Linked DNA regions of Homo sapiens. The protein of the gene in region 1 purifies or fractionates together with the protein of each later gene. This does not show direct contact. Each region holds a gene or a part of one and is shown in the gene's direction. Other genes may lie near its edges.

What was found.
Region 2: the proteins of GTF2A1 (region 1) and CYB5D2 purify together in Homo sapiens (co-immunoprecipitation; one large-scale study listed by IntAct). This does not show direct contact.
Region 3: the proteins of GTF2A1 (region 1) and PTCD2 purify together in Homo sapiens (affinity purification with mass spectrometry; 3 studies listed by BioGRID and IntAct, with this or other methods). This does not show direct contact.
Region 4: the proteins of GTF2A1 (region 1) and TBPL2 purify together in Homo sapiens (affinity purification with mass spectrometry, with the first as the bait; one large-scale study listed by BioGRID). This does not show direct contact.
Region 5: the proteins of GTF2A1 (region 1) and PDIA6 fractionate together in Homo sapiens (co-fractionation; one large-scale study listed by BioGRID). This does not show direct contact.
Region 6: the proteins of GTF2A1 (region 1) and INPPL1 purify together in Homo sapiens (affinity purification with mass spectrometry; 3 studies listed by BioGRID and IntAct, with this or other methods). This does not show direct contact.
Region 7: the proteins of GTF2A1 (region 1) and BCAT1 purify together in Homo sapiens (affinity purification with mass spectrometry; 2 studies listed by BioGRID and IntAct, with this or other methods). This does not show direct contact.

What each region holds. Positions count from the first base shown.
Region 1 is NC_000014.9:81,210,960-81,214,459, reverse strand, and holds part of GTF2A1 (transcription initiation factor IIA subunit 1), read left to right. Parts: intron 1-3,500. UniProt on the Homo sapiens protein: TFIIA is a component of the transcription machinery of RNA polymerase II and plays an important role in transcriptional activation. TFIIA in a complex with TBP mediates transcriptional activity.
Region 2 is NC_000017.11:4,149,697-4,153,196, forward strand, and holds part of CYB5D2 (neuferricin isoform 1 precursor), read left to right. Parts: intron 1-194; coding exon 195-335; intron 336-3,500. UniProt on the Homo sapiens protein: Heme-binding protein which promotes neuronal but not astrocyte differentiation.
Region 3 is NC_000005.10:72,354,873-72,358,372, forward strand, and holds part of PTCD2 (pentatricopeptide repeat-containing protein 2, mitochondrial), read left to right. Parts: intron 1-3,330; coding exon 3,331-3,500. UniProt on the Homo sapiens protein: Involved in mitochondrial RNA maturation and mitochondrial respiratory chain function.
Region 4 is NC_000014.9:55,423,617-55,427,116, reverse strand, and holds part of TBPL2 (TATA box-binding protein-like 2), read left to right. Parts: intron 1-2,863; coding exon 2,864-2,958; intron 2,959-3,032; exon of another isoform or gene 3,033-3,074; intron 3,075-3,500. UniProt on the Homo sapiens protein: Transcription factor required in complex with TAF3 for the differentiation of myoblasts into myocytes. The complex replaces TFIID at specific promoters at an early stage in the differentiation process.
Region 5 is NC_000002.12:10,785,839-10,788,785, reverse strand, and holds part of PDIA6 (protein disulfide-isomerase A6 isoform d precursor), read left to right. Parts: intron 1-16; coding exon 17-89; intron 90-1,346; coding exon 1,347-1,505; intron 1,506-2,947. UniProt on the Homo sapiens protein: May function as a chaperone that inhibits aggregation of misfolded proteins. Negatively regulates the unfolded protein response (UPR) through binding to UPR sensors such as ERN1, which in turn inactivates ERN1 signaling.
Region 6 is NC_000011.10:72,231,267-72,234,766, forward strand, and holds part of INPPL1 (phosphatidylinositol 3,4,5-trisphosphate 5-phosphatase 2), read left to right. Parts: intron 1-231; coding exon 232-349; intron 350-973; coding exon 974-1,070; intron 1,071-1,359; coding exon 1,360-1,498; intron 1,499-1,608; coding exon 1,609-1,708; intron 1,709-1,808; coding exon 1,809-1,897; intron 1,898-2,174; coding exon 2,175-2,256; intron 2,257-2,388; coding exon 2,389-2,478; intron 2,479-3,014; coding exon 3,015-3,128; intron 3,129-3,260; coding exon 3,261-3,349; intron 3,350-3,500. UniProt on the Homo sapiens protein: Phosphatidylinositol (PtdIns) phosphatase that specifically hydrolyzes the 5-phosphate of phosphatidylinositol-3,4,5-trisphosphate (PtdIns(3,4,5)P3) to produce PtdIns(3,4)P2, thereby negatively regulating the PI3K (phosphoinositide 3-kinase) pathways.
Region 7 is NC_000012.12:24,876,102-24,879,601, reverse strand, and holds part of BCAT1 (branched-chain-amino-acid aminotransferase, cytosolic), read left to right. Parts: intron 1-952; coding exon 953-1,072; intron 1,073-2,647; coding exon of another isoform or gene 2,648-2,674; intron 2,675-3,500.

The sequences.
Region 1 (3,500 bases):
GTTAGCCAGGATGGTCTCGATCTCCTGACCTTGTGATCCCCCCACCTCGGCCTCCCAAAGTGCTGGGATTACAGACATGAGCCACCGCTCCCGGCCGGGTCTCAGTAATTTGATAAATCGTCCTGAGATGAAAGAGTTTTAGAACTGCTGGTTTAGAAGTTGATTATTAGGCTCCTTTAAATCTATGTACAAATAAATAATCACAGTTAATAAATGTTAAGGAACATTTGTTGTGGTCTCATCCATTCAGCATAGGTGTCGAGGCTGCAACTTGGCAACCAGTTGCAAATCTTACCTTGATTGCGGTGATGAGGTAGGTCTTGGCGTATTTATTAATAGGTATCTACAGGAAACTTCTCTAGAATTTTCAATAAGAATATTCCTGTGTGAGGAGTTTGAGACCAGCCTGGCCAACATGGTGAAACCCTATGTCTACTAAAAATACAAAAATTAGCTGGGCATGGTGGTGCGTGCCTGTAATCCCAGCTACTGGGGAGGCTGAGGCAGGAGAATGGCTTGAACCCAGGAGGCGGGGGTTGCAGTGAGCCGAGATCATGCCACTACACTGCAGCCTGGGTGACAGATCAAGACTCTGTCTCAAAAAAAAAAAAAACAGAAAAACCCAAAAATATTTCCTGTGTGAGGTAGGAAAAATATATAGGTGTGAAACAGATGAGCAAATATTTATTTACCTTGAGAAAAATTACAGGTTACTAATAGTGAAGAGTAGGTATCTAAAAATACAAGTGTAAGAGTGCTAATTCCGAGACATGAGTTGGAAGAAGAACAATATAAATTGTTCAAGTAGCATGAAGTAACTGAGGGATGTGAATAATAAGAAAACAAGCTTCTTTTGATTCCTTAGTGTAACGTGGAATGAGTTTTTTGCAATTTATGTTATACTTTTATAATGGTTGTCCTTGTAGTTTTGTGACCTTGTATAGAAGATGCAGCATTTTTAGGTGTAGAAAATCAGTTCTAAAGATGTTAGGTAATTTTCTCTAGGTCAAACTAGTGGTCAGTCTAGATTGTTATCTACTCTCGCTTTTCACAATGAAAATCTGGAGAATTTTCCCTATCGTTAATAGTAGAATCAAGACATTCTCTCGAAGAGAATGAGCATCTTTGAGACCAAATGTTTCCACCTCCATTTTTGTTATATATGACTTTTTTAGTACATATTTTATAGGTAACACACTGATTTTTAGTTTAATGGTTAGTTTTTAAATGACAAAAAATGTGACCTACTCAATTTTGAATCCCCAGCTTCTACCACGATGTCTGGGCATATGTGGTTGGCATTCAGTAAGTATTTGATTGAAGTGTTTGATAATAGATACGGCACCTGAATCTAACTGAACAAAATAGTGTAATATTCTTGTTGTTTTTAAATGGGCCATACTCTTCTATCTGGGTTGTATTGGAGTTAAAAATAAAACGGTTAGACTAAAATGAGTTTGTTATTTTAATTCTCTGCACTGAATTTCTTCAGGATCTCATTAGAATTTCTAGAATATGCCCTAGATTTAACAGCTGGACAGCCAGCATTGTCCAATAGAACTTTCTGCAGTGATGAAAGTGTTCTGTACCTGTGCTCTTCAGTATGGTAGCCACTAGCCACATGTGCTTATTAAGCACTCAAAATGTGGTTGGTGGAACTGAGGAACTGAATTTTTATTAATCTAAACTTAAATCACTACATATGGCTAGTTGCTGCCATATTGGACTGCTCAGGTTTAGACATTCTTGCTTAATAAAACGAACTTTAATTTCATATTTTATGGTTTAGAAAGCCTGTCATTAGCTCTAGCCCCTCTCCCTACTTTCTGGGGCCATTTTACAAACTTATCAAAAGCTTGTATAAGGCTGTAAAGGAGGCAGTGGTGAATTAGATTGAGAACAAAGATGAATGATGAGAATGCATGTAATTTGAGGGTTAATGAGGTAAGCAGAAAGGGAGATGATAAGAATATTTCAACCCAATCTTTGAGGTTATCTTTTGAAACACTGCAGGCCTACTTTAATGTGTAAACTGTGAGAGGTAGAAAAAACACAATAAAATACAGCCCTGGTTTTCAGTAAATCTATATTCGAATGTAAATGTGTTTTGGATTGGTGAGTGTCTGTGGGTGGGAATGACACTGTAGAAATTCTCTTCAAAGTGAATGATAAAATCAACCTGATTTCTAGATTTTCCAACCTACCTATGTCCAAATGTCAAGTACTGTGGGAGATATAAAACATTTTCTCTCTTTTTAATAAAACAAATGAGAAGAGTTGCCTCAATTGGAAGTATATCTGAAATTCAGTTTATCTGCCTCTGGTTCAGATTTCTCAACACTGGCATTATTGACATTTTGCACTGGTTAATTCTTTGTTGCAGGGGCTGTCCTATTGATTGTAGAATGTTAGCAGCACAACTGGCCTCTGCCCACTAGATGCCAGTAGCACTCTTCAGTTGTAACCAAAAATGTCTCTAGACATTGCCAGATGTCGCCGGGGGCCAAAATCACCTCTGGCTGAGAACCACTATTCTAAATATACTCTAGTTATATATATATATATATATATATATATATATATAAAGTACTTGATACACTCTAATTATGTGTAAATATTTGGACCATAAGTTGAATAATAATCTACTATTTCATTTCATTTATTCTTAGGGAAAGCTCTGTTTCTACAGCATTATTTCTTGGGAACCTAGAAGTGTAATATATTTTATCCAGGAGCTAGATGTTTTGTGAAAGTAGGAGAATCCTTCAGAATTTCTAGCCCACCATGTTGCCAGGTTTAGCCACCTAACCTCTGGGCTTGTGATGTGACGGGCTGCAGTGAAGGTCTCTGATGTGGCCTGGAGACATTTTCTCCATGGTCTTGGGGATTAACAGTAGGGGAGTGATAAGGGGATTAACTTGGGGAGCAGTAGGTCTCATCACATTTTATAGGTGAGAAAGTAGACTTGGAATGTGCTTTGACAAGGTCGTTTAGCTAATAAATGGTAGAGCCATGAACCTAGCCCTTTTGCCTCTATGTGACATATACAGTACTTAGCAGTAAGCAGGAAGGTAACAGAGTTTTGACTAGATCTTGGGTTGTTGGTGAATGGCACCTGAGATGGTTTTGATGGTCGGTGACCTGCTCTGATAGCAGCAGTCTAGTTTAGAGACTAGGAATTTGGACTAGTACTGGGATTAAAGGGAGGCAAGTGAGGGTCCTGGGGTACAGAATGCAGAGACATTCACTCTCTAGCCCTGACTGGGACATTGAAGTCAGACCACCTGGGTTATATCCCTATTCTGTCTGCCATTAGAGTGATCTTGAATAAGCTACCTAACTTCTTTCTTGTCAGATTCTTTTTCTGTAAAAGGGAGATAATAATGTCTATCTTATAGGATTTTTGTGAAAAAACTAGTTTGTACATGTATTTATAAAGTACACAGAATTTAGTAAGTTTTAGTTATTAGTCAACACAATATACAAATGTATACCTGAAT
Region 2 (3,500 bases), on another chromosome or scaffold:
GCTGAAGCAGGAGAATGGCTTGAAAGCGGAAGGCAGAGGTTGCAGTGAGCTGAAATCATGCCACTGCACTCCAGCCTGGGCAACAGAGTGCGACTCCGTCTCAAAAAAAAAAGAAAAAGAAAGAAAACAGATTCTTGAGTGGGGATGGTGTCAGTGGTTTACACCTGGGTCTGATGGAAACATCTCTGTTCCAGGCCGAGACGCATCCAGAGCTTTCGTGACCGGGGACTGTTCTGAAGCAGGCCTCGTGGATGACGTATCCGACCTGTCAGCCGCTGAGATGCTGACACTTCACAATTGGCTTTCATTCTATGAGAAGAATTATGTGTGTGTTGGTAAGTCGTCCATAGGTCATACATTTCATTTGGTTGTCTGCAGTGTTTTTAGGGGGCTGAGATTTTTTAGGGATTGGGTTCAAGCTTAAAATCTGAAAAACAGCCATGGATTTGTTTTACTTTAAATTCTGGTCGTTAGAATAGGGATGAGCCGCCCAGAAGGAGATGGATGGGCACCTGCTTCCCCCACTCTTAGTCTTGGGAGAGGATTACTAAGCTGCTTGCTTTGGCCTCAGTTTCGCCATAGCCAGTGGTTGCTTGCACCATCCTTGAACAACCAGCTCCAGAAGGGCAGCTTCCCTGTCTCACTGTGTTCGATGCATCTGGCTTCAGCACACAGCCAGAAGGGCTTGAAGCCTGAATTTGTGTTTCGACAAATCCCCTTTTATTTGGTCCTCTAGGAGGAGACAAACTTCGTGAGTGAGCTGTCTCCCAGGTGGTAGTTATGCTAATCAAACCACTGTGTAGGTTACTGCACTTGCTACTTACTGATGCTACATAAGGGACTTGCTTCTCAAATGAGACAACACCAAACTGTGTCCTAAAGCAGTGTTAAAGACTCTAAACACTAGGCCCGGCGCAGTGGCTCACGACTGTAATACCAGCACTTTGGGAGGCTGAGGCGGTTGGATCACTTGAGGTCAGGAGTTCAAGACCAGCCTGGCCAACATGGTGAAACCCTGTCTCTACTAAAAAATACAAAAATTACCTGGGCGTGGTGGCACGCACCTGTACTCCCAGCTACTCAGGAGGCTGAGGCAGGAGAATCGCTTCAGCCCGGGAGATGGAGGTTGCAGTGACCTGAGATTGCGCTACTGCACTCCAGCCTCAACGAAAGACACTAAACACTAGATTGCTTCACAAGTACTGACAACTGGGATGGCCGTAGCCCTTTCTTCTATCTATCTGCAGCCCCCACGTCTCACTGGAGTCCTACTTGGACATGACTGACTTCCTGAGGAACACCAGTATCACTTCACCATCGAAACAGGTCTAACTTGGAAGAATTCTTTCCTTAATGCCTCTGAATTTCTGCTTCTGTCATCACTGCTTGAGTTACCTTTTCTGAGAACCTTGGCATTTTTATTAACACCTCAGCTCCCTCCACATCCAATCAATCATGGCTTTTTCATAATATCTAAAGTTTGTGTCCATCCATTGTGGGCCTCTGCAGCACGCCTTTCTTCATTTTCTCTCGTATGCCCAAGATCAGTCTTGAGACCATAACCCTGTCTACCATCGAAGGCACTGACCTCTACTCACCTGCGCTTCAGAGGGCTGGGTTCTTCCCTTTCCCAATGAAGTTGCCAAACCAAGGTTGAAACATTACTGGGTTAATAAAGAAAAGAAAACCCAATAGAAAAGAATAAGAGCCAGGAGTGGTCTCTCACACCTGTAATCCTAACACTTTGGGAGGCCGAGGTGGGCGGATCACCACCTGAGGTCAGGAGTTCAAGACCAGCCTGGCCAACATGGTGAAACCCTGTCTCTATTAAAATACAAAAATTAGCCGGGCATGATGGCAGGTGCCTGTAATCCCAGCTACTCAGGAGGCTGAGACGGGAGAATTGCTTAAACCTGGAAGACGGAGGTTGCAGTGAGCCAAGATCGCACCACTACACTCCAGCCTGGGTGGCTGAGTGAGACTCTGTCTCAAAAAAAAAGAAAAAAAAGAAAAAGAATAAGAATGGAGTCCAGACCGGTGGCTCATGCCTGTAATCCCAGCACTTTGGGAGGCTGAGGTGGTCGGATCAGTTGAGGTCAGGAGTTCAAGACCAGCCTGACCAACATGGCAAAACCATGTCTCTACTATAAATACAAAAAATTAGCTGGGTGTGGTGGGACACACCTGTAATCCCAGCTACTCAGGAGGCTGAAGCATGAGAATCACTTGAACCTGGAAGGCAGAGGTTGCGATAAGCCGAGATCACATCACTGCATTCCAGCCTGGGCAACGGAGTGAGACCCTGTCTCAAAAAAAAAAAAAAAAGAACAGAGTCCTGTAAATGGGCAAAGAATGCCAGGCCAAATACTTCATACTAAGATTTGGGAGCACACTGGAAGTGTTCGGATGCGTTTGGTGTGACAAGTGAGCTGGTCTTGTTTGAATGATGTATAATGTGTTGAGGATGGGGTGGGGCATGTGGCGGGAAATGCCTCAGAAGGATTTTAGTTGATGTCAGGATCTTATTGAATACCTACTACTCATAAGTTACGGGTTCCATCCTCAGGGGGACCAGGGATGAATTGAGTCCAGTTCCTGCCCCTGTTAGCTCATTCTGTAGGATAGGGGCCATGTTAGGCTCTTTCAGGTTACCAGAAACCCTCAGGATACATCAGTGGATGAAGGTTTATTGTAAGGGTACATACTGAAGTGAGGACAGCCAGGAAGCCATCTTGGCAGCCAACATGGCCAGGCCTCAAGGGAAAACAAGATGGCCTTGGTTATGCTGTGGATACAGGATTGGCTTGGAGATGCAGCCACTGGTGATCACCATTCTCATGACACAGATTCTAGAACTCTTCCTCTGTTGCCTCTGCTACTACTGTCCTCTCTTTGGGTCTCATGTCAGAAACTCACCAAAGACAGGCTTGTCACCATATAACACAGACACCCCAACCCCCGTAGTGGGAAATTCTGTGCCAGGCCAACTCATAGACTGCAGGCCTGTGACTCGGGCCCTGATTCCTTTCTTTATTCATCTAATAAGTATTTAAAATGAATGCTCTATGCTAAGCTGTTTTATTTATTTATATATTTTTTCAGATGGAGTCTTGCTTTGTCACCCAGGCTGGAGTGCAGTGGCACGACTGCAGCTCACTGCAACCTCCAACTTCTAGGTTCAAGCAGTTCTCCTGCCTCAGCCTCCTGGGTAGCTGGGATTACAGGCATGCACCACCACGCCCAGCAAATTTTTGTATTTTTAGTAGAGACAGGGTTTCACCATGTTGGCCTGGCTGGTCTCGAACCCCTGACCTCAAGTGATCTGCCCGCCTCAGCCTCCCAAAGTGCTGGGATTACAGGTGTGAGCCGCTGCGCCTGGCGCTAAGCTGTTCTGAGTACTGCGCCTCACTAGTAGAGAGAGCCATCATAGACAAGTAAACAGATTGAACAACTCCACATAGGACCATGCATCAAACTGTGATGTAATACGTTTGGGAGCT
Region 3 (3,500 bases), on another chromosome or scaffold:
TCGTACAAAGGACAGGAAATGAGGAACAGCTACATCATATACTGCTATGGATTACCATTTATATGGATCACTTAAATATGTTTTTAAGTGACAAAAGTAAGATGCAAATGGGTATGTGTAGTATGCCTTAAGAAGGCGGGACCATATAGTTATTTTTATATATTTATGTTTTTGAAAAACACTACGATAAAAAAAACAAAACTTAAGTGGTTATGTTGATTTCTTTTTCAGATCTTTTTTTATAGAAATACTGCTGTTTTTGTATGTAAATTTTGTAACCTGCAGCTTTACTGACTTTATCAGTCCTAAAGGTTTTTTTGATTGAGTCTTTAGGAACCACAGTTAATTATTATGCATATTTCAAAAATGCCAAAGAAGTATATTTTAATGTTTCACCGCAGAAAAAGACACATTGGTAGATGATGGATAGTTTTGTTAGCTTGACTGAATCTTTCTACAGTATACACATAGATTGAAACATCACATTGAACTTTATAAATATACACAATTATTATTTGACAATTAAAGTAATTGACAAATTATTTTTTAAATTTAATTTTAAAAAATTAAGAAATAAAAGTTTTGAAAGTGAAAGTGAGGGACGGAAACATGAGTTCTCCGAATGTACCTTGTTTATGTATTTCATTTAGGAACCATGTAAATGCTTTGCAGAACTGTAAAGCAGAGTTAAATAAAAATGAAGAGAAAAAACAGTTCCTAAAAATTGAAAGTGAAATGAAACAAATGAACCCATGTGTCACATTGATGGCTTAAGTACACAAATTGGAATTCTTGTAGGTCATTTGAGATGTAGTAATTTGTGTATCTCTCATAGCATGTAACTTAAGGTGAAAAACAGAAGTGTAAAGAAATTGTACGTTATTGACAGTGATCATATTGTTAGTAATAATACTGATATTGTCATTTTGACCAACCAAGTGGCCTGTTGGTTGGTCCTCTCTTCCTCCCTCATTTCTCCTGCCTCTCTTTTATAGTTTGGTCCAGGCTGAAGGCTGAGACAGCAGGATTGGCACTAGAGGGCAGTGGCTGCTTCCTCCTCCTGCCACACTGTCGCCTTCCCAGCCCTGTTCCATTTCCTCACTTCCACCCAAAGGCTTCTTCCTTCTGATAAAAGGGAGCTTGTCAGGAAAATGACTAACTGGATATGGTTGATTTAACGCTTCTTTCTATTTGCAGTTTTAGCTCTGTGTAGGCTGTGATCCACCCAACCCTTTTGGAGTAAGTTTAGAAAAGTAGGGAAAGTAGAAGCATGAACAGATTTTAAAGTGCATAGTCACGTGTGTATGTGTACATGTGAAATCCAACTTCCATTTTCTCAGCAGCATTGTTGTTAACAACCATTCCTTAGACCTGAACCATCAATACATTGTCACCCATTTATATGGCTAAAGCACCCGAACAAACTTTATATTGAAAAATACTCATATAAGACTCTTGTACTTAGAAAATGAACCCTCTAGTTCAGTGTCTTCCCTCTGGTTACTGTGGGACCACTCAAGGAACAGCTTGATGAGAAATGGATTGATTCATATAACTCCAGTAGCTTTTGAGCTAGTTCTAAATATATATGTGTGAGATTGCAAGTGGAGTCCTATATTGTAAACGTCTGCATTTTACAAAGTGCATTTAATGCTTATGCCAGCAGTTATTTAAAAAGTGTTATGTAGGGAGATAAGACTATAAACTATCATAGGTGCTATTATACCACCACAGGACTATTGAAAATAATTGCTGATTTATTTCTGTAGTTATGTAACAGAACTGTTACAGTTTTTAGATCAAAATTACCTCCAGCTTGGCATGTTTGCTCTGCTGCTTTTAGAAGCCATATGCTGCACATTAAGTCATTTTCACCTTGAACATGAGGACTAAACAAGCTATTCTTTTTTAAGAACATTAAGAAGTGCTTAAGCTGCTTGTCTGCAGGCATGGTTGGGAGCCATTGTCTCAAAGGAAGATGTGCAGGTGCAAACAGTGTTATATATTTGGAAGAGGTGGAAGAGGGGCAAAGGATTTATTAGGAAGCTTGATCCCAATTAAATTCCATCAAGAAATGTGTTGAGATTGTACCCTTGATAAGGATTGAACTAAGTAAAATGCTGATTTTATTCAGAAAGCAGCTTCACATTCTCCATTCTAGTTCACCCATTTTGGGGGTTAAATACCATCATATACTTGTGACTCTACTACGTATGCCTCTAGCCCAGACCTCTCCTTCATGCCCCAGACTTGTATATCCAACAACGTTCTAGACATACCCATTTAGATGGTTCACAGCCGTCTCAATCAGGTCCAAACAGAGCTCTTGATTTTCCCTTCCAAATCTCGCCTCCCTGTCTTCTCTATCAGGAAATGATAGCACCCATCATCAAGCTATTAAAGCCCCAATTGAGAAGATAGCTTTGACACCTCCCTTTCCTTCACCCATTCAAAAATAAGTCCTTTCAGTGTAAACTCCAAAATATACCTCACATAAGTGTACTTCTCCTTCTTTTCTGTACCTTTCCCAATCTCAACTACCATTGTTTCTTATCTGGGCTATGGTGTGGGCCTCCAGAATAGTCTCCACATTTCTGTACACTCCAGTTCATTCTCTGCAACTTTTTGAACAGAAATGAGATCATTTCCCACTTTAGATGCTCTGATGGCTTTTTTAGAATAAATTTCAAAAAACTTATTGTGGAATATATATAAAGCCTATGTAATTTGGCCCTGCCTCCTCCTGCTCTAATCATTACATTGAACAAAGTTGATTCCACTGGTATATGACCTCCTTTACTTGGTGTGTTTCATTATATATGATGTGTTATTTGAACCCCCCTTTTTTTATATTAGGTATGATTTTCAAGTACTAATTTTGAATTTTGTGTGTAGCTTTTGGAATCCCTCATAGTAATACTGCTGTCTGTGTGCCCCAGTACCCTGGTTTTCACGATTTTAGGTGTATACCATACTTTTTTTTTTTTTTAAGACTCACTCTGTCGCCAAGGCTGGAGTACAGTGGCACGATCACAGCTCACTGCAGCCTCTGTCTCCTGGGCTTAAGTGATCCTCCCACTACACCAACTAATTTTTAAAAAAATTTTTTTACAGACAAAGTCTCACTGTGTTGCCTAGGCTGGCCTAGAAATCCTGTGCTCAAGCAGTCCTCCTGTCTCAGCGTCCAAAATTGCTTAGATTAAAGCATGGGCCACCTCGCCTGGCCTACCATACATTTTTGTTCATGTCCATTTCTTTTTCTTAGGGTTATAGTAAGAATAAGGAAGAAATCTTGCAGAGATGTAATGATGTGTTCTTGCTTTTTTCCAGCTGGCCAAAGTGAGGGAAAAAGTGAAGGATGTGCCTGCCCTTGTGGCCAAATTTGATGAGATCTATGGGACACTGCACATCACTGGCCAGGTCACCACTGATTCTTTGGATGCTGTGCTCTGCCACACCCCCAGGGACAGGAAATCTCACACGTTGCTATTAAACAAGAG
Region 4 (3,500 bases), about 26 Mb from region 1:
CCCAGTGCTTAAGTTGTCTTATCTTCCAGACTCTCAAGTCACGAGCCTCCAGCCTATCTTTCTCTGAATCGGCTTAGTGTACATCTGCAAGAGCTCTGCCCGAACTCTAAGGTTGTGTCTACATTAGACTTAGCATTCCCTTCTGGCCATTCAGGGCTCGAAAATGATGTGTGTGGTTCTTCCCAAGTGTCCATTCATTTCTTTTTCACCAGCATCTTCCTTGCAGAGCAGATCTAAGTCTAGAATAGGTGCCCCTTGTTATTACTACCAGCTTCTGGAAGGGTTGCCAGTAAGGCGCAGTGAGAATACATCAGACGGAGTGGGCCCATCCCTGTTCTATCTTCCTCCTGGGACAGTTTTATGATCTCAGTCATCTTTTCTTTTCTTTTCTTTTTTTTTTTTTAATCTGGCCAGGAAGCTTGCTTTGTATTCCCACAACTTTCTATTTCTAGTCTCATTCTTGCCTCCCCCTCATCCTCTCCATTCGGCTGTCAGCCTCAGGTTATGGATTACAACTCCAGAGTGTGTATTCTTGACACTGGGAACATTAAAAACACCTCTTAGAAGATTTGAATTTTTAACATGAGGCCTCTCTAATTGTCTGTAGCTCTGTGGGGAACCATGCTACATAATCAGTTATAATTATCAGGCCAAATTTGCCTTGTGTTAAACCCCTAAGGTCATTCAGTTTCCCAGGTTCTGCAAATTTGTATGTCAACATTTAATAATACAAGTATCTCCTTTTGTTACCAGGCACTTTCTCTGGTAATCTTTCTATGACATAATCATTTCCACAGTTGTCAATGAGAATTTTTCCCTCTTTATTTTATTTATTTATTTTTTTTTTTTGAGATGGAGTTTTGCTCTTTTGCCCAGGCTGGAGTGAAGTGGCATGATTTCAGCTCACTGCAACCTCCACCCCCCAGGGTTCAAGTGATTCTCCTGCCTCAGCCTCCTGAGTAGCTGGTATTATAGGCACCCACCACCACACCCGGCTAATTTTTGTATTTTTAGTAGAGACGAGGTTTTACCATATTGGCCAGGCTGGTCTTGAACTCCTGACCTCAGGCGATCCACCCACCTCGACTTCCCAAGTACTAGGATTACAGGTGTGAGCCACCGCACCCGGCCCCCTCTTTAATTTTTAATTCAAAGGTATCCTGATATAAATACTTGCTATATGAATAAGATCTAGGTGACTACCATGTAGCAGATGCTAGGATGATAATGGCAAGCAATATAGCTATAGTCCCTTGCCCACATAGAGATCACTGTCTAAAAGAAAAGATGGACAAGTCAATGACAGTAATGAAACATGGTGACTGTGAAGGTAAGGCCCTTCAGGGGCTATGAGACCATAAAGCAGGGTCTTTAATGTAATTGGGGGTGGGTAGAGATCAAGGAAGATTTTCTTGGGGAAGTAACATTTAAAATGAGACTTGAAGGATGGGTCAAAGTTGGGTTGGCCAAGAAATTGGCAGGTGTTCGATATTCTCAATCTTTGTGAAATGTTCTCCATCCCTAACCAAAACCACTCTCTTTCTCTGCCTCAGCCTTCTTTTGGAATGAGGCAGAGAATAAATAAAATGAAGTATATTCCTAATTGGGAGCACATTATACTGGTAATCTTAAAACCATGGTTCTAAAAGCTAAATGCAGTTCAATATCATTTACATACCAAAGTTTTTGTTTTCTCTTTTCTAAGTCTTAAAATTTAGCTGGAAGATCAAATGGAAATCTTCTTTTTGTGTCTCCAGCCTTCATTTTCTTGGCCTGGATCTCATAGCCCTGGAGGGTTTTTCAGGGCTCCCCCTAGTGTCATGGTCTCCCCAGTGTTGGGAAGTGGTTAGTGGGAGAAAGTCTTGACAGGCTCCCTGCAGTAAGACAGAGTGATGTTCCAGAAGACAGTTCCACCCACAATGACCTCCTATACTTGAGATGGGCAAGACTCACTTCAAGATGCGCCTTTCTGGAGCCAGTAAAAGGTTCCACATCTGCTGTTGTTTTTGGGTCTTGTTCATTGCTGAACTGAATGGAGCTTTTCCATGCAGTCTGGATTCACCCTTTAAGTGCAAAGATGCTAGTGTTCCATTGCTTGGATGTCTTTTTTTCTTATATTTCTTGTCCATTAGCCACTGCTTTGAGAATAGTTTTATTCACCTCCTCTCACTTCCTGACTTCTTTTTGGTAGGTTCCTCAAGCCTTTCTAAGAATCTGCCCTCCTCTCCAGGCTGGAGTGTGGAGAAGAAGCTCTTAAGTGCTATCATCTTTCGCTCCATGGAGTGGCCAGCTTATATTTAGTAGTAAATATGAGTTACTATTTATAGCAACAAATCCTGAATTGTAAAAACTCGGGATAATTGGATTTTCTTTATTTATATAGCACCTGTTCAAATACAAATAGCAGTGGCCTAGAAATATTTTTAGGTTCTATCTGCTAAAAATGTTAACTTCAGCAGTTCGTAAAAGCATACAAAATATGTTTATTATTGGAGAATTTGGAAACCCAGAAAAACATGATTATGTATTCTTATTAACAGACTTTTTTGAAAAGATAGAGGATGTTTAACCAACAAGCTCTCAATACACTAAATCAGATGCCCTAAGTTACCTTGATTTCTAATAACCATCCAGGATAGCTTGCACTTGTGTTATGACCCAAAATTAATTATGTTCCTAACTTCCATAAGATATTACCTAGGACACTCAAGACTCTTCATCAAGATAGTTAAAAAGTTTTTGATAAAATAGCTAACTTATTTACAACTGCTTTAATATGCACTTTAATATACTGGGCCTTACATGTTATGGGAAAGGAGCTGAATAGTGCTATTTTTAACATTTTCCTTTTACATCTTAACAGTTACGAGCCTGAACTGTTTCCTGGTCTTATTTATAGAATGGTAAAACCACGAATTGTGTTGCTTATCTTTGTATCTGGAAAAGTTGTGTTGACAGGTAAGTGCTAAGATTATTTTCTGACTCATAAAATGTAATTGCTATGCATGTGCTTTGCTTATTCTTTTAAATACCTTTGTTCACCATGGTAAAGTAATTCTTGTTATACAGAATACCTGGAATGAAAAATAAGAAAGGAATAACATCACCCATAGGTCCCAGTACCTAAAACAACATTTTTTTCATGTTTTTATGTCATTTTATTAAGTATTTCATCTTTACATCCTGATTTTTTTACAGAATTATCCATGATAACATATATGGCTTAAACTTACTGTTACAAACTCTTCATAAAGGCTTTTAATGGCCACACAAGGTCCTAACACAGGGGTTAACAAACTCTTTTCTGGAAAGGGCCAAATACTAAATATTTTAAGCTTTGTGAGCCACAGGGTCTGTCACAATTACTGAGCACTGCCATCGTAGTGTGAAAGCAGCTCTGAATGTTACATTATATAAAGGAATGGGCTCTGAAATGTGAATTTCATATCGTGACATAATTTATGTGTGTTATGTAATATTTTTTCCCCAACTGCTGAAAA
Region 5 (2,947 bases), on another chromosome or scaffold:
TGTCTATTTAAATCAGGAGCTGCAGGCAGAAATTCTTATCTGGAAGTTCTTCTGAAGTTGGCAGACAAATACAAAAAGAAAATGTGGGGGTAAGTTACTGAGCTTACTGTCTGAGTGTCATCTGAACAGCTGATTATAGGCTTTCTTGAGAGTGGTTCCCCCGTGTTTTTGTAAGCTGTGTTCTATGTTTGCTCTGCTATATGTTTTTTTTTTTTTTCCCTCCTGCCTCAGCCTCCCAAGTAGCTGGGATTATAGGCGCCCGCCACCACACCCAGCTAATTTTTGTATTTTTAGTAGGGTCAGGGTTTCACCATGTTGTCTAGGCTGGTCTCAAAACTCCTGACCTCAAGTGATCCACCTGCCTCCACCTCCCAAAGTCCTGGGATTACAGGTGTAAGCCACCGCACCCGGCCTGCTCTGCTATATGTTTTTATTCAGGATGTGAAAACTTTATCATGGGAGGAAAAGAAGGAATGAAGGGCTGTCAGCACAGCATGCATTTTTCTCATAGGAATCATGTTTTACATGGTGATTGGAGTGCCAGGTTAGCAGGCAGACACATAAGGAGTAGTGCACCTGAATTCTACTGTGAACTTGAAGGCTGGGTGAGAAAGGGGAAATAGAATTGTTTCCTTCTCCTCTTCTGAGTTAAGGACTGGATCTAGGCACATTTTCAAAACAGTGTATCTCTTTCCTATTTTATCCTTTTTTTTTTTTTTTGAGACAGAGTCTCACTCTCTTGCCCAGGGTGGAGTGCAGTGGCACAATCTCGGCTTACTGCAACCTCCGCCTCCCGGGTTCAAAAGATCCTCCTGCCTTAGCCTCCTGCGTAGCTGGGACTACAGGCGCACGCCACCATGCCCGGCTAATTTTTGTGATTTTAGTAGAGATGGGGTTTGCACCATATTGGTCAGGCTGGTCTCGAACTCCTGACCTCAGGTGATCCACCTATCTTGGCCTCCCAAAGTGCTGGGATCACAGGCGTGAGCCACCGTGCCCAGCCTCCTTCCTATTTATCTTTTTGCTTCTTGTCCTCAGTATCCATTGCTTTCCCCAGGTACCTAGCGCCCCCTGTTGTCCCTCTCTCGATGACCTTGCTCCTCCTCCATTAGTCCAGCAAATGTTTATTAGATGCCTACAGAACGCGAGAACATGCTTAATAACCCAAATGATATTGGTGGGATTTCAGGTAAAAAGGGAAAATCCATATAGAAACTCATCTTTTGTTTTTATTTGTCATTCTACGAAATATCTGAAGCGTGATCTTTTGTTCTCTAAGATCTTCTAGTTAGATCGTAAGCAATTTAAAAGACATATTTGCCCTAAAAACCAGTCTGGTTTTCTAGGTGGCTGTGGACAGAAGCTGGAGCCCAGTCTGAACTTGAGACCGCGTTGGGGATTGGAGGGTTTGGGTACCCCGCCATGGCCGCCATCAATGCACGCAAGATGAAATTTGCTCTGCTAAAAGGCTCCTTCAGTGAGCAAGGCATCAACGAGTTTCTCAGGTAATTTGTTTTCTTAGGTTGTTTGTTGTTTTGTCTGTTTGTTTGGTTCTGTTGTAGGTTTATATTTGGAACTAGGTATATATAAGCCAGGTAATAAATGGAATTTAAAATGCAAACTAATTCCAGAGAATTGAATGTTTATACATTAGAGTTTTTAAATTGTCTCCCTGTTCGTTCTTTTTTCCATGGAATACTCTGCTTGCGGGATGAGGAGAAAGCATTGCTACCCTCGGGCCGCCCTGTGTGCCATTCTGTGCATCTGGCCCTGGGCTCTTTCTCATTCTCATAAAGGTCTCATATGGGCTAGAGGCAGCCCTGTCTGTCCATCCTCACCCTCATATGCATTGTAATCTTGACCTTGGGGAAATGTGGTTTCCATTTCTGGGCACTTGGCTTTGGAATGTAGTTATTTATTTGAAAATGGGCGTACTTAAGTTACTCCAACAATGTGCAAACAACATGATAGGTTCTAAAACCAATATACAGAGCTGTCTACTCTGCTCTGCTATTCAGCTCACCTAATCATCTTTTAGGCAATACAGGGCATTGACCTAAAGAGGTTTTATTTCCCATTCTTGCTTTCTTCCGCGTTCATTTCTTAGCTGCTGTATAAGAGATGTTCAGCACACAAAAGGTAGTTGAGAGGCTTGTGTTGAATAATGAATAGGAAGAACAGTACATGAAAGCCTGCAGTGCTCTTGCTGCCAGTCTTCCTACTTGACACAGAAGTTTGTGTGCTGTGTGGAGACGTGTGTGTGTGCTGTGTGGAGAGTAGGGGCTCCAAAGTCAGGTGCCTCAGTCACAGCTCTGCCTTGAGTAGTGAAGTGGGAGGCATGGAGGAAGCCCTGTGAGATCAGCTGCTTCAGCCTCTGCCGGCGGGGGGCAGACTGTGGCTCCTTCCCTCCCAGCTCTCTCTCATTGTAGTTGGTTAATATGGTTAATGGGTGTTTTCTTTCCCCCCCACCCCCGAGACAGAGTCTTGCTGTGTCGTCCGGGCTGGCACGATCTCGGCTCACTGCAACCTCCACCTCCCGGGTTCAAGTGATTCTCCTGCCTCAGCCTCCTGAGTAGCTGGGATTACAGGCGCCTGCCACCACGCCCAGCTAATTTTTGTATTTTTAGTAGAGATGGGTTTTCACCAGGTTGGCCAGGCGGGTCTCAAACCCCTGACCTCAAGTGATCCACCCACCTCAGCCTCCCAAAATGCTGGGATTACAGGTGTGAGCCACCACGCCTGGCCAAGGGGGTGTTTTCATTAAGTTTGTGGGGCTGGGTGCGGTGGCTCACGCCTGTAATTCCAACACTTTGGGAGTCTGAGGCAGGCGGATCACTTGAGGCCAGGAGTTCGAGACCAGGCTGGCCACCACGGTGAGACCTTATGTCTACTAAAAATACAAAAAATAGGCCAGGTGTGGTGTTGTAGGCCTGCAGTCCTAGCTACT
Region 6 (3,500 bases), on another chromosome or scaffold:
CCCTGGGAGCACAGCTTCACTGGCTTTTTCTCTGGTCCCTGAGCATATCCTTTGGGAGATCTGACCTGAGTCCTTCATGCCACGAGAGGAACCATTTCTCTCCAGTCCGTCAGGAAGAGGGGTGGCAAGCCTTCCTACCCTGTGATGGACACAAAAGTCTATTTATAGTGCAGGGGGAAATGCAGGCAGTGGGTGCAGCAGGGCAGTGGTGACCATGCACTCTCTACCCAGATTGCCATGCAATCACTGTGGAATATCAAGGTGGCAGTGCTGGTCAAGCCAGAGCACGAGAACCGTATCAGCCATGTCAGTACGTCCAGTGTGAAGACTGGCATCGCCAACACCCTGGGTAAGTGGGGCTGGCAGGTGCCCAAGAGTGGCAGCGTCTCTCTGTCCATGGCTTCTGCTTCCTCTCAAGCCTAGGATTGCCCCATTTTTGGTGATCTTAGTTTCCCCATATATAGGGTACTTTGAACTTTGAAAAACATATTCATATTCTAAATCTCTCCCAGCACCACTGGGAAGGCAAGGCCAGGATAATTACCCCCTTTTCACAGATGATAAAACTCAAACCCAGAGTGGTTGAGTGACCTGCCCAAGGTCACACAGCAAGTAAGTGGTGGAGCCAGGCATTGTGCCCAGGTCTCCTGATTTTCGGTCTGGTGCTCTCCCAGGTAGATTCTGCGCAGAATCTGCAGGGCCTTTCAGCTTCACCCTTGGGGTCCCCTGTGATCTCCAGGGGCTCTGCTCACACATACAGACAGACTCAGGCCATCCACACAGACCATGTGTGCCCAATGAGGACCCCCCCCTCCCCCAGGGAAGGTGTGGGTGTGTGCAGGGGCCTGCCCATGTCACAGCGTCTGGTGGGCTCAGCGGGAGGATCCTCTCACTGCAGCTTTGAGAGGCAGAAGGGAGAGTTGGGAGCCCTCTGAGGATGACCCAGGCCTTCCTCTCTTGCTTGCCTTAACAGGGAACAAGGGGGCTGTGGGCGTCTCCTTCATGTTTAATGGCACCTCATTTGGCTTTGTGAATTGTCACCTCACCTCGGGAAATGAGAAGACGGCTCGGTGAGGGGGCGCCTTTCCCATGGTCTCTTTACACCCATCCCATTCACCTGAGGCCTGTTCCCGCTCCCATACCCTAGCCCATGACCCTCCCGCAGGCCTGTCTCCAGAGACCCCCTGCTCTCTTATCCCAATTCAAGACCCTTCTGTTCCTGACCCTAACCTTGTCCCCAGGGGCCCGGATCTTTACCCCATCCCTGACTCCTGAGACTTCTTCCCTTTATGCCTATCCCTGACTTCTGGCCCTGACCCTGGGGATCTACCCCTCCCCACCACGCACCCCTCACCCTAGGAGGAACCAAAACTACTTGGACATCCTGCGGCTGCTCTCGCTGGGCGACCGGCAGCTCAATGCCTTTGACATCTCTCTGCGTTTCACACACCTCTTCTGGTTTGGGGACCTCAACTACCGCCTGGACATGGATATCCAGGTGCGAGCAGGGCCCTGCCATGGCTGTAGGGAGGCTAAGGGCCACATGGGCTATCACCCCTGGCTCTGGCTCCGGAGGAATGTTTCTAGCCTTTGTGTCCTCCACCCCAGGAGATCCTGAACTACATCAGCAGGAAAGAGTTTGAGCCCCTCCTCAGGGTGGACCAGCTCAACCTGGAGCGGGAGAAGCACAAGGTCTTCCTTCGATTCAGTGAGTGTGGGCCTGGTAGGTGGTGATCTGAGGGCTAGGAGACTTGCAGTATCCCTGGGTGTCAGGGCCCTGAACCCCACCTGTCTCCTGCTTTCCTTAGGTGAGGAGGAGATCTCCTTCCCACCCACCTACCGCTATGAGCGGGGTTCCCGGGACACATATGCCTGGCACAAGCAGAAGCCAACTGGGGTGAGCCAAGAAAACGGCATGGGCCTTGGGGGACCGCAGGCCTGCGATGAATCAAGAATTTGGGTCAAGGGTATGGGCCTCTGCAGCTTCCACTCCAGCCTCCATGGCCCCTCTGAGGCCTTTGGGTGATCCTGGGTATTTTGAGGATCCAAGAAGGGAGGTGGGTGCTAGGGCCTCTAGTAATAGAAGTGTGGGGACTCATCAGCTCTGGAGTGGGGTCCATGCCAAGCAGCCTCCTAGCTGTCAGCTCTAACCATGCTGCCATCCCCTGCCCCAGGTCCGGACCAATGTGCCCTCATGGTGTGACCGGATTCTGTGGAAATCCTACCCTGAAACTCACATCATCTGCAATTCTTATGGTCAGAGCCTCCCGGACAGAGTGATGGGAGATCTGGGGTGGTCACCATCTGGACTCTGCCCTAACCTTGGGAGGTGGGAGCCGAGGGTGGGAATATTCCCCCTGAGTCCCCATTCCTATCCCCTCTCCCCAGGTTGCACTGATGACATCGTCACCAGCGACCATTCCCCCGTGTTTGGGACATTTGAGGTTGGAGTTACCTCCCAGTTCATCTCCAAGAAAGGTGACTGTTCCAGATATGCTTGTGGGTGTGGCATAATCTAGGTGGGCACAGGTGGTGGCCTCGGGATGTACATAGGTTTGACTATGTAAGTGTGTGTGTGGGTGTGTGTACCAGTGAGTGCAGGAGTGTTTCTCAAGGTGTGATGTGTCAGGGTGTCTGTGCGCCTGGGCCATCACAAGAGTTGTGTGCCCATGAGTGTGTGTGCATACGTGAGTGTACACCTATCTATGTGTCTGTGTCTGTCTAGGGCCACGTGTGTGTCCCTGAGTATGCCTGTAGGTGTGGGAATCCTGCAGGCATTCTGGTCCCCAGCACCCTCTTCAATGGGTTTTTTATCCTTGGGTTGTCTCTTTGCTCTGGTCCAGGGTCTGGCCTCTGGAGATTCCCTGTTGGTGGCTTGGGACTGGGGAGGCCCCTCCTGGCCCTGCCTCCTTGCTCTGGACCCCTGATTTCCTGTCCCAGGGCCCTGTTTCTCTGTCCCATTCCTCCTGTGATCCTCTCAGTCCTCCTGTTTGTTCTCCTCCCTTTCTCCTCAGGGCTCTCAAAGACTTCAGACCAGGCCTACATTGAGTTTGAGAGCATCGAGGCCATTGTGAAGACAGCCAGCCGCACCAAGTTCTTCATCGAGTTCTACTCTACCTGCCTGGAGGGTCAGAGGCGTGGCAGGGGCTGGGTGTGGGCCAAGGAGGATGGGAGGCAAGAGGGTGCAGTCAGCCCCCTACTTAGGGGGAAAGGAAGCTGAGAGGTGGTGCTCAGTTGGGTGTCTCCCACCCCCACCCCAGAATACAAGAAGAGCTTTGAGAATGATGCCCAGAGCAGTGACAACATCAACTTCCTCAAAGTGCAGTGGTCTTCACGCCAGCTGCCCACGGTGAGGCTGTGGGCAGGGCCCCTGCTTATGGGTGAGGGCACAGAGAGGGGTACATAAGAGTTTATTGGAGAGCCTGCCTGGGAGGGAGTGTGGGGCCAGCAGAGAGAGAGAGAGAGAGTGTGTGTGTGTGTGTGTGTGTGTGTGTGTGTAT
Region 7 (3,500 bases), on another chromosome or scaffold:
CCCAATTTCTATAACATTACTACATTATTATTGCTGTTACAGGTCAATATTTAAATAGACAAATTCTGACTTCATGAGCTTTACTCAGATGCTTATGACTGACTCATTTCTACCTTAGGTGACCCATCACATCTCTGAAAGTATGTTTCTCTACTTTGCAAGTGAGCAGAGACTAAATTATTTTATGAAGTATCACCCATCTAGTAGATGTAATTTTTTTTTCTTTAGAAATAAAGTGCTCTTTGCTTTTGCCCATTTTCCTATTGGGTTATCTATCTCTTCATTGACTTTGGGGATATCCAAATATATATACCAGTTAAAATTCTTTGTTGATCATGCTACCAATAACTTCACCCAGTTTGTTGCTTTACATCTTTTGAAGAACGGAAGTCTTTAAGTTTCAAATAGTCACATTTTATCCATTTTTTTCCTTCATGATTTGTGTTTTACATCTCCTACTTAAGAATCCTTTCCTACCTTAAGGTCACAGAGATATTTTGTACTTTTTAAATAAAGTCTTAGTATTTTGTCACATTTAAGTATATCATCTAATTAGAATTGATTGGGGGGTATGGTAAGATGTAGGGATCTAATCTTATCTTTCACATGTGGATAGCTCGTCATCCCATCACAATTTTTGGGGGGAAAATCAGAAAAAATTGTTTGGTTTTATTATTACTTTAAAATTTTTTTTATTGGTACCATAAATTATACATATTTATGAGGTACACTGATGTTTTCATGCATGCATATAATGTGTAATGATTAGGACAAATAAGAAAGAAATAAATAAAAATTAGGATAATTAGGATATCCATCACCTCAAACATTTCTTATTTTTTTGTGTTGGGATTATTAATTTTTTAACAGTTTAAATGCTTCAGTGAGGATCATTTATTATTGCCACATTGTGAGAAAATTCTGTCATTTATTATGTTTTTCATTCTTTCAGGTATTTGACAAAGAAGAGCTCTTAGAGTGTATTCAACAGCTTGTGAAATTGGATCAAGAATGGGTCCCATATTCAACATCTGCTAGTCTGTATATTCGTCCTACATTCATTGGAACTGAGGTGCAAACTGACTCTTTATTTTGGGGTACTTTGCTGGGCAAGTTATTATTGTTTATTGTTGTTTGAAACTTCTAGCATATAGTTTGCAGTAGCCCCCCAGTAGCATCATTAATGACTTCTTCCTTCTGATTGTCAAGATTAGAGGTAGCAAACATTTTCTGTGAAGCGCCAATCAGTAAATATTTTTTGGCTTTGTGGCCATATAGTTTCTAATAAGAAATTAGATCCCTACCTCTTACCATACCCCAAAATCAATTATAATTCGATTATATACTTAAATGTGACAAAATACTAAGACGTTTATTAAGAAATACAAAATATCTCTGTGACCTTAGGTAGGAAATGATTTTTTTTTTTTGAGGTCTCTCTCTGGTTTTTTTTTTTTGCCCACGTTGTCGCTTAGGCTGGGGTGCAGTGATGCAATCACGGCTGACTGCAGCTTTGACCTCCTGGGCTCAAGTGATCCTCCTGCCTCAGCTTCCCAAGTAGCTAGTACTACAGGCATGTGCTACCATGCCTAGCTAATTTTTAAATTTTTTGTAGAGATGATGTCTCACTCTGTTGTCCTGGCTGGTCTCAAACTCCTGGCCTCTAGCAATCCTCCCACCTTGGCCTCCCAAAGTCCTGGGATTACAGGCATGAGCCACTTCACCTGACCGGAGAGGATTCTTAAACTCTGCCATTTTAGTACTAAAGCAGCCATAGACAGCACATAAATGAGTAAATGCAGTGCTGTTTGCCTTGCCCAATTAAGACTAGTCATTATTTTCTAAGTTTACAAGTGCAGTGCCTCCCATTGTGGCAGTACTTCTCTGAGGTAGAAATGGTTTTAAAATTTAGGGGAGGGAGAGCTGCTAATTTTCATTTTCATGAGGTCTTGGGATTACTTGGCATGGAGTGAGAATGGAGGTTCCCCTTCCCACATAGAAAAATGGTGAAAATAAAGTTCACAGTGGGAGTTAAGGAAGGAAATTGAAGAGCTGGGATGGTAGGTTTAAATAACATGACCTTATGATTTCCTGGTGGGTCACAGTCTCTTGGTTGGGTGCCCTTGTGAATAAAGGCATGGATTGGGCATGCCTGGAGGGGCCAAGGCCTTTTGAGCGGACGAGTATGTTTATATGAAGACCCTGTCACCTGTCTCTGGTATCTGCTAGGCAGCTGTGGCTTGAGAGTGTGATATTGAGGGATAATTGATGGAAGGAGATTGAATGTGGCTGGCAGGTAAAGAGATAGGGAACATATGGAGATATTTAGAATAAGAGAGTGTGAGATAGAGCGCTTTTGCTATAGCCTAGCCATTCTGTTCTCTACTAAGTGTTGCGGGGTTACCAGGTTTTCTACTAGGCTGTATGAATGCAAAAGGTAGAGAGATATATAGGGCCATGGAATAAATACCGAAGTGTTTTCTTTGGTATCCTTGATACCTTTCGAAAGCCGTGTAAGGATCTAGATAATGAATTTCGTGAATTGCAGTCTCTCTGACAAGTTTTAAAGAATAGGAACAATTTTAAAAAGTCATCTACTTCCATAAGTTTTTTGACATTTTAAGATAATTGAATTTTTTTTTTTCAGCTTTTAAGTTCCAGGGTACATGTGCAGGTAGGTGTGTTATATAGGTAAATGTAAGCCATGGTGGTTTGCTGTACAAATCAACCCATCACCTAGGTATTAAGCCCAGCATCCATTAGCTATTCTTCCTGATGCTCTTCCTCCTCCCGCCCCTTCCGACAGACCCTAGTATGTGCTGCTCCCTGCATGTGCCCATGTGTTCTCATTGTTCAGCTCCCACTTATAAGAGAACATGCAGTGTTTGGTTTTCTTTTAATATTATTTTTAACTTTATGATAGGAAGGAGTACTTTTTAAAGTTGGTTGAAACATTGTTACTGATCTCAAAGCACTACCTTCCAGTTATTCTGAGATACTTTTTCAGTCTAAGATCTGATACTCCTATTCCTGGTTTGTTGAGAGTTTTTGTCATGAATGGATGTTGGATTTTGTCAATTGCTTTTTTTGAATCTCTTGACATGATTATGTGGTTTTGTACTTTATTACATTATTAATGAATGAATTATATCAATTTATTTTTGGATGTTAAATCAACCTTATTTTCCTAAGCTAAATCCTACTTGGTCATTGTGAATAATCCATTTTTTTATCTTGCTATATTCAGTTTGCTAATATTTTAAGAATTTTTGTTTCACTGTTCATGAAATATATTGATCTAGTTTTCATTTTTCTTTTCTTTCTTTTTTTTTTTTTTTTTTACATCTCCCTCCTCTTCCTCTTGATCTAGTTTTCTAATACAGCTGCACTCCAACTTACGATGGTCCTACTTAGGAGTTTTTGACTGTATGATGTTTGAAAACAATATGAGTTTAGTAGAAACTTACTTTGAGTACACATACCATTCTGTTTTTTTGCTT